Linked DNA regions of Homo sapiens. The protein of the gene in region 1 purifies or fractionates together with the protein of each later gene. This does not show direct contact. Each region holds a gene or a part of one and is shown on either strand. Other genes may lie near its edges.

Region 1 (3,963 bases):
AGCTGAGTATAATTTGGCTTCCGTCATTAGGAATGAGATAAATCCTAACTGTCCAACAGAAATATGGACTTGTTTCTAAAGGAGTTAAATATGTTTGACCTGAAAGTTTAAACCTATTACATTAAATGATTAAAGGGACCTTTTTTGGCAGTCTGATCAATGGGTTGCAAATGCTCTGCAGATGGGAGGTGACGATAGGAAGGAATTATGCAACATCATCCTTCCTCTAGTTTAGCAGGAAATATTTCTGGTAGGAAGACATACATGAAAATAGGTCTGCTGTGTAATGTCATTTTAGAACCAAACTTTGTTGGGTTAAGATGCTTTTACAGAAAACATCCTTTTAAAAACTTGGTACTGTATGTTTTAGTTAAGATAACACTTTTTGTGTCCTTGTTTGCTGAAAACGTTCAAGTACATAAAGAATTGTATTATTAAATTACCCACTGACAACAATTTCTTTAAAGTTTATATATTTGTGGGAAGGTCACAATTTACATACTTCCAAAAAACAAAATACCTTGGTTTATACATTGTCAAAACAGTCTGTAAAAATCAAAACAAATTGAAACAAAGGCAGAGATACTAGGCGAAAGAGGCAGAGACTTCCTATATACACTACAACTTCCTATTCAAATTTCAAAGTGCTTGTTTCAAGAGAACACATTTCTCACCTACTACCTTTAAACTAACATGCTTCTGGAAATGTGGTTTTCCTCCAAGGACAGGGATTCAATTTAGCTCAGCTCTGGCTCATTAGTGTGAATAAACAGAAGGGCTTTGCTTCAGGGAGGTAGACAGGAATCACAACAAGGCTTGACTTTAATGAGACCACATTACCACAGAGGTTCTCTTTTCCAGATGACTTCCAACATTGTCAGTGACAGTCAACTGTTGGGAGCAGATCTTGGGACAAACCTTTTAGGGAAAATGAACTAAATCAGCATGAGCCACTGTCAAGTTTAAGGTGACAGCTGAAGGCTGGGTGTGGTGGCTCATGCCTGTAACCCCAGCACTTTGGGAGGCTGAAGCAGGAGCATCGCTTGAGCCCAGGAGTTTGAAACTAGCTTGGGCAACATAGCAAGACCTCATCTCTACGAAAAAATTAAAGACTTAGCCAGGTGTGCACATCTGTAGTACCAGTTACTGGGCAGGCTGAGGCGGGAGGAAGGCTTGAGCCCAGTAGTTCGGGGCTGCAGTGAGCCATGATTGTGCCACTGCACTCCAGCCTAGCAACAGAGTGAGACCTTGTCTCTAATAATAATAAAAGGGGCAGCTGGAGTCCACCAAGAAGTATTGTCCATCAGGGATCTTTTCAGCAGGCACTAAACTGCTGGGGAAAGAGTTTCATCTTGAGCCTTTACAACAACAAACAACTTTTTTCTGTGAATCTGACTGATTGCCTAGGTAGAAATGTCCTTTTCGGTGGCCTCAGTGATACATTGATACTGTTTATGGTCATTTACAGTAAAGAAAATATGTCCTGCAAAGAGACAGACCACCAGAATATTTAGTTCTATGGCAAATACCTTATTTGAGGAGCTCATGAGCTTCATGACCAGTCACTTCTGGAGAGTGCAGGAGTTCAGAGTGTCCCAGCCCCTTTTGCTCTTCAGTGTTTCAAAATACATGTGTGGAGAAGCTGTTTTCTTGCAAAGAAGTTATGATCTCTGGATTGTCATGCCATCATTGGCACACAACTCCCCTCTGGAAGAGGAGCTGTTTGCCAGAAATATTTTCTCAGTGTGATTTATGGCATTCCACCTGGCTCTCTCCATCAGTCTCTACTAGCAGAGCCACTCCCAAATGACCCAGAGCCATCCTTTCCACTCCAATGGAGAGGCTTCCAGAACATGCTGCAGTTGGGTCCTTGGCATTGACTTGCAACTGAAGCTCCTCAGGAGTTGGTAGGAGGAAGTAGAGGGACTGGTGCCTGTAGCTCCTGGCTTTCCTCTCTGACCAACGCATAGCGCCTGGCTTTTCTAGGGTCGGGCTCTGGCGTCTCCTCTGCCCATCTCCCCACACGGCGCACACCTTTGGCCACCTTGGGTGCGTTCCTGCAAGGATTGTGGTCATAGATGACCAGCTTCAGACTTGACAGGTGCGCCAGGCTGGGGAAGTAACGGATGCTGTTCCAGTCCACATCAATCACCTCCAGGAAGGGCATGTGAAGCAGCACAGTGGGAAAGTCAGTTAGCCGGTTGCCCGAGAGCCAGATGGTCCTCAGCTCCTGGAGGCGCCGGAGCTGGCCTGGCAGCAAACGCAGGGCGTTGGAGCCGGCATGCAGAGTCTTAAGGAGACTCAGCTCACAGACCACATCCGGCAGCTGGGTGAGGCAGTTGGCCTCGATCCACAGGGTCCTGAGGTTCTGGAGCAGGCTCAGCTCACTGGGGAGGTCGCAGAGTTTGTTGTTGCCCAGGTAGAGGATGCAGAGCTGTTTCAAGGTGCACACCACCTGGGGCAGAGCCTTGAAGTTGTTGAAATCCAAGGCCAGAATCTGCAGGTTCTGTAGCTGCCCCAGCTCCGGAGGCAGGCTATTGAGGTGGTTGTCGCTCAGGTAGAGCTTGACCAGCTCCCTGAAGGAGCACACGTGCAGGGGGAAGCGGCGTAACTGGCTCCCACTCAGATCCACCATCTTGTCCAGCGGCATCTCACGGAGGTCCCTGACCACATAGTTCTGGCAACGGTCAGCAGGGATGAAGGCCACGAGGGCCCTGATGGTGTTCCCCATGCGGAGGCTGGGGGCATGGCGAGCCCCAGAGGACAGACTCACTGAGCGGGGCTGGCTCAGCTGACTGCTCTGGGGCCTATCCTACCCTCCCATTATAACTTGGGGATTGCATGACAAAAGCCAGTCACTTTGACAGAGAAAAGTGCTCCTGATAGCAACTTGAGTGTCCGGCGACAGCGCAACAGTCCGGCAGGGGCTGGGAGGCCATGTCTGACTCACATGCTTGCCTTTAATCACCTAAGCCCCAATCCCCTTTATCAACCTTTTTTCATTTCAAGCTGAAAATAGCTTTGCTGTTTTTTTCCCTAATGATAAAATATTAACACATTACATAAAGGTGTAAAAGAAGAAAATGAAAAACACCCATAGTTCTATTACCCAGAGATAAATACTGTACACATTTGCATGTGTCCTCTAGTCTTTTCGCTATAAGTAATCATTTGTTTTTTAAAATTGCACTTTAGGAGCTTTTTTTTTTTTTTTTTTTGACAGGGTCTCATTCTGTCACACAGGCGGGAGTGCAGTGGTGCAATCTTGGCTCACTACAGCTTCTACCTCCCTGGCTCCAGCAATCCTCACACCTCAGCCTCCTGAGTAGCTGGGACTACAGGTGCACACCACCGTGCCCAGCTAATTTTTGTATTTTTTGTAGAGATGAGGTTTCGCCATGTTGCCCAGGCTGGTCTTGAACTCCTGGGCTCAAGAGATCTGCCCGCCCTGGCCTCTCAAAATGCTGGGATTACAGGCGTGAGCCATGGTACTTGACCAGGAACCTTATTTTTTAATCATGACGTATCATGGACATATTTTCATGTTTGCAGATATCTATGCAATTATTTTAAACCCCTGCATAGTATTCCATTACATGGATGTGCAGTAATTTAAACAGTTTTCTGTGGTTAGGCATCTAGGTTGTTTACAAAGCATGACTATTATAAACATCCATGTGCATACAGATGTGAGCAGCAATCCACTCATTTCTTTAGAAACCGTCCTTAGAAGTGTTGCTGGAGCAGGCCAGGTGTGGTGGCTCACGCCTGTAATCCCAGCACTTTGGGAGGCCAAGGTGAGCCAATCACTTAAGCCCAGGAGTTTGAGGTCAGCTTAGGCTACATGGTAAAACCCCATCTCTACTAAAAAAAACAAAAATTAGCTGGGTGTGGTGGCACACACCTATAATCCCAAGTACTTGGGAGGCTGAGGCAGGAGAATGGCGTGAACCCAGGAGGCGG
Region 2 (3,500 bases), about 61 Mb from region 1:
GTGATCACAGTGCCTGGTTTTAACTTTATATCACTGAAAGAGGCACTGAAGAGGGTAGAAAAGACACACTTGAATTGCTGATTCACCCCCTCCCCGCCATCCCCCAGCAGTGACTGTGGTACAGAGACAGAATCGATGAGCTTGAGGGCGGGAGAGCACAGTGACTGTGGGACTTGGCTTTAGAATGCAATGCTGCCCAATCACAGGGGAAAGCACACAGGGCAGAACTCAGCCAGTGCCCATGGAGGGAGCATTTAGACCAGCGTTAGCCAGGGGTGAACTGCCCATCCCAGCGGTTGGAAGCTGAGTTCCGATTAGCCCCTGGGGCTCTAAATACTCAGCAGTGATAGCTGGGCAGTACTTGTCGTGGGCCTTGGGTGAGACTCAGAGACATGCTGGCTTCCAGTGATTCAGCACATTCCCAGCTGTGGTGACTATGGGGAGAGACTCCTTCTACTTGAGAAAAGGAGAGGGAAGAGTCAAGGGGACTTTGTCTTGCAGCTTAGGTACCAGCTCAGCCACAGTGGGGTACAGCACCAAGCAGGCCCTTGGGGTCGCCAGTTATGGGCTGTGGCTCTTGGATGCCATTTCTGGACCTGCTGTTTGTCAGAGGAGAGCTCACTGCCCTGAAAAGAGAGTCCCAGGCCAGGCACCATTCACCACAAGCTGGTGAAAGGAGACTTTGGGCCTCGAGAGAATACTGGAAGTATCCAGGCAGTACTCCTGTGGGCCTGGAGTAGTGGTGGCCACAGAGAGAGACTCCTCTGTGAAAAGGGGAAGGAAGAGTGGGAAGGACTTTGTCTTATGGCTTGGGTGCCAACTCAGCTGCAGTAGAACAGAACACCAGGTAGATTCCTAAGGTTTCTGACTCCAGGCCCTGGCTCGCAGATTACATCTCTGGACCTTCCAGGGTCATGGGGAACTCACCACCCTGAAGGGGAGGACACAAGCCTGGCTGGCTTTGTCACCTGCTGACTGTAGAGCCCTAGGGCCTTGAGCAAACATGGGCAGTAGCCAGGTACTGGTTACCACAGGCCTTGGGTGAGACACAGTACGGTGCTGGCTTCAGATCTGACCCAGTGCAGTCCCAATGCTGGTGGCCACAGGGGTGCTTGTGTCACCCCTCTCTCCAGGCAGCTCAGCACAAAGAGAGAAACTCTGTTTGTTTTGGAGAAAGTAAGGGAAGAGAACAGGAGTCTCCTCCTGGTAATCTGGAATTCTTCCAGATCTTATCCAAGACCATCAAGGAGGTACCTCTATGAGCCTTCAAGAGCCACAGAGATACTGAGCATGGGGTCCTCCCTAATGCAGATGAACTGCAGAGTCCAAACACTTAGATTACGACACCCAAGTCCCTTCAAATACCTGGAAAGTCTGCCCAAGGAGGACAGGTACAAACAAGTCCAGAATGCCAAGACTACAATAAATACCTAACTCTTCAATGCCCAGACACCAATGAACATCCACATCAAGACCATGTTGGAAAAAATTACCTCACCAGATGAACTAAATAAGGCACCAGCAACCAATCTCCCAGAAACAAAGATAGTGATCTTTCAGATCGAGAATTCAAAATAGCTGTTTTGAGGAAACTCAACAAAATTTTAGATAACACAGAGAAAGAATTCAGAATCTTATCAGATAAATTTAACAAAGAGAAAAAAAAAGAGGTATTGACTTTAAAGAGGAGGTTGAGAGAGAAAATGAGATGGAAAGTTTATTCAAAGTGAAAATAACAGAGAACTTTCCAAACCTAGAGAAAGATATCAATATTATTATTATTTGAGACAGTCTCGCTCTGTTGCCCAGGCTGGAGTGCAGTAATGTGATCTTGGCTCATGTGACCTCCGCCTCCCTGGTTCAAGTGATTCTCCTGCCTCAGCCTCCCCAGTAGCTGGGATTACAGGCACAGGCCACCTTGCTTGGCTAATTTGGTATTTTTAGTAGAGACAGGGTTTTGCCATGTTGGCCAGGCTGGTCTCGAAATACTCATCTCAGGTGATTTGCCCACCTCAGCCTCCCAAAGTGCTGGGATTACAAGCATGAGCCACTGAGCCCAGCTGAGAAAGATATCAATATTAATTACAAGATTATAGAACACCAAGCAGATTTAGCCCAAATGAGTCTACCTCAAGACATTTAATAATCAAACTCCCAAACATCAAGGAATAAAAAACAAAAAAGAATCCTAAAAGTGCAAGAAGACAGACGTGGTGGCTTACGCGTGTAACCCCAGCACTTTGGGAGGCTGAGTGGGGAGGATAACTTGAGGTCAGGAGTTGGAGACCAGCCTGGCCAACATGGCGAAACTCCATCTCTACCAAAAATACAAAAATTAGCCAGGGGTGGTGGCGCTCACCTGTAAACCCAGCTACTCGGGAGGCTGAGGCAGGAGAATCACTTGAACCCAGGAGGCAGAGGCTGCAATGAGCAACCATTTATTGCATTCCAGCCTGCGCGGCAGAATGAGACTCCATCTCAAAAAACAAAAAAACAAAAACAAAAATTAGCTGGGCATGGTGGCGCATGCCTGTACTCCCAGCTACTTGGGATGCTGAAGCACAAGAATCACTTGAACCCAGGAGGCAGAGGTTGCAGTAAGCAGTGATCCCGCCACTGCACTCCACAGCCTGGGCAACAGAGGGAGACTCTGTCTCAAAAACAAAAAAAATTCAGTAACATTTCTATATGCCAACAGGGAACAATCTGAAAAAGAAATTAAGAAAGATAATTCCATTTACAATAGCTATAAATAATATAAAATACCTAGGAATAAACTTTACCAAAGAAGTGAAAGATCTCAACAATAAAAACTATAAAATACTGATGAAAGAAATTGAAGAGGACACACAAAAACATGAAAAGAGATTTCATGTTTCTGGATTGGAAGAATTGATATTGTTAAAATTCCGTACTACCTAAGGCAATCTACAGGTTCATTGCAATCCCTATCAGAATACTAATGACATTCTTCACAGAAATTCTACATCCTAAATCTTAGGACTTTTGTAAAAAAAATCATAAAATTTTTATGGAACCATAAAAGACCTAAAATAACCAAATCTATTCTGAACAAAAAGAACAAAGCTGGAAGAATCACATTACATGACTTCAAATTATACTGCAAAGCTATAGTAACCAAAACAGCATGGTACTGTCATAAAAACAAATACATAGACCAATGGAACAGAATAGAGAACCCAGAAACATGTCTAGGGTGAACTCATTTTTGACAAAGGTGACAAGTGTATACACTGGAGAAAGCACAGGCTCTTCAATAAATGGTTCTGGGAAAATTGGATATCCATATGCAGAAGAATGAAACTAGACCCTCATCTCTCTCCATATAGAAAAATCAAGTCAAAATGGATGAAAGATTTAAATCTAATACCTCAATCTATGAAACTATTATATATAAGAAAACTTTGGGGAAACTCTCCAGAACATTGGTCTGGGCAAAGATTTCTTGAGTAATACCCAAGGAGCACAAGAAACCAAAG

The links. The genes of interacting proteins can lie anywhere in the genome.
Region 2: the proteins of LRRC10 (region 1) and A2ML1 purify together in Homo sapiens (affinity purification with mass spectrometry; one large-scale study listed by BioGRID and IntAct). This does not show direct contact.

Annotation. Positions count from the first base shown.
Region 1 is NC_000012.12:69,608,108-69,612,070, forward strand, and holds LRRC10 (leucine-rich repeat-containing protein 10), read right to left. Parts: upstream 2,801-3,963; 5' UTR 2,732-2,800; coding exon 1,898-2,731; 3' UTR 457-1,897; downstream 1-456. UniProt on the Homo sapiens protein: May play important roles in cardiac development and/or cardiac function.
Region 2 is NC_000012.12:8,825,621-8,829,120, reverse strand, and holds part of A2ML1 (alpha-2-macroglobulin-like protein 1 isoform 1 precursor), read right to left. Parts: intron 1-3,500. UniProt on the Homo sapiens protein: Is able to inhibit all four classes of proteinases by a unique 'trapping' mechanism. This protein has a peptide stretch, called the 'bait region' which contains specific cleavage sites for different proteinases.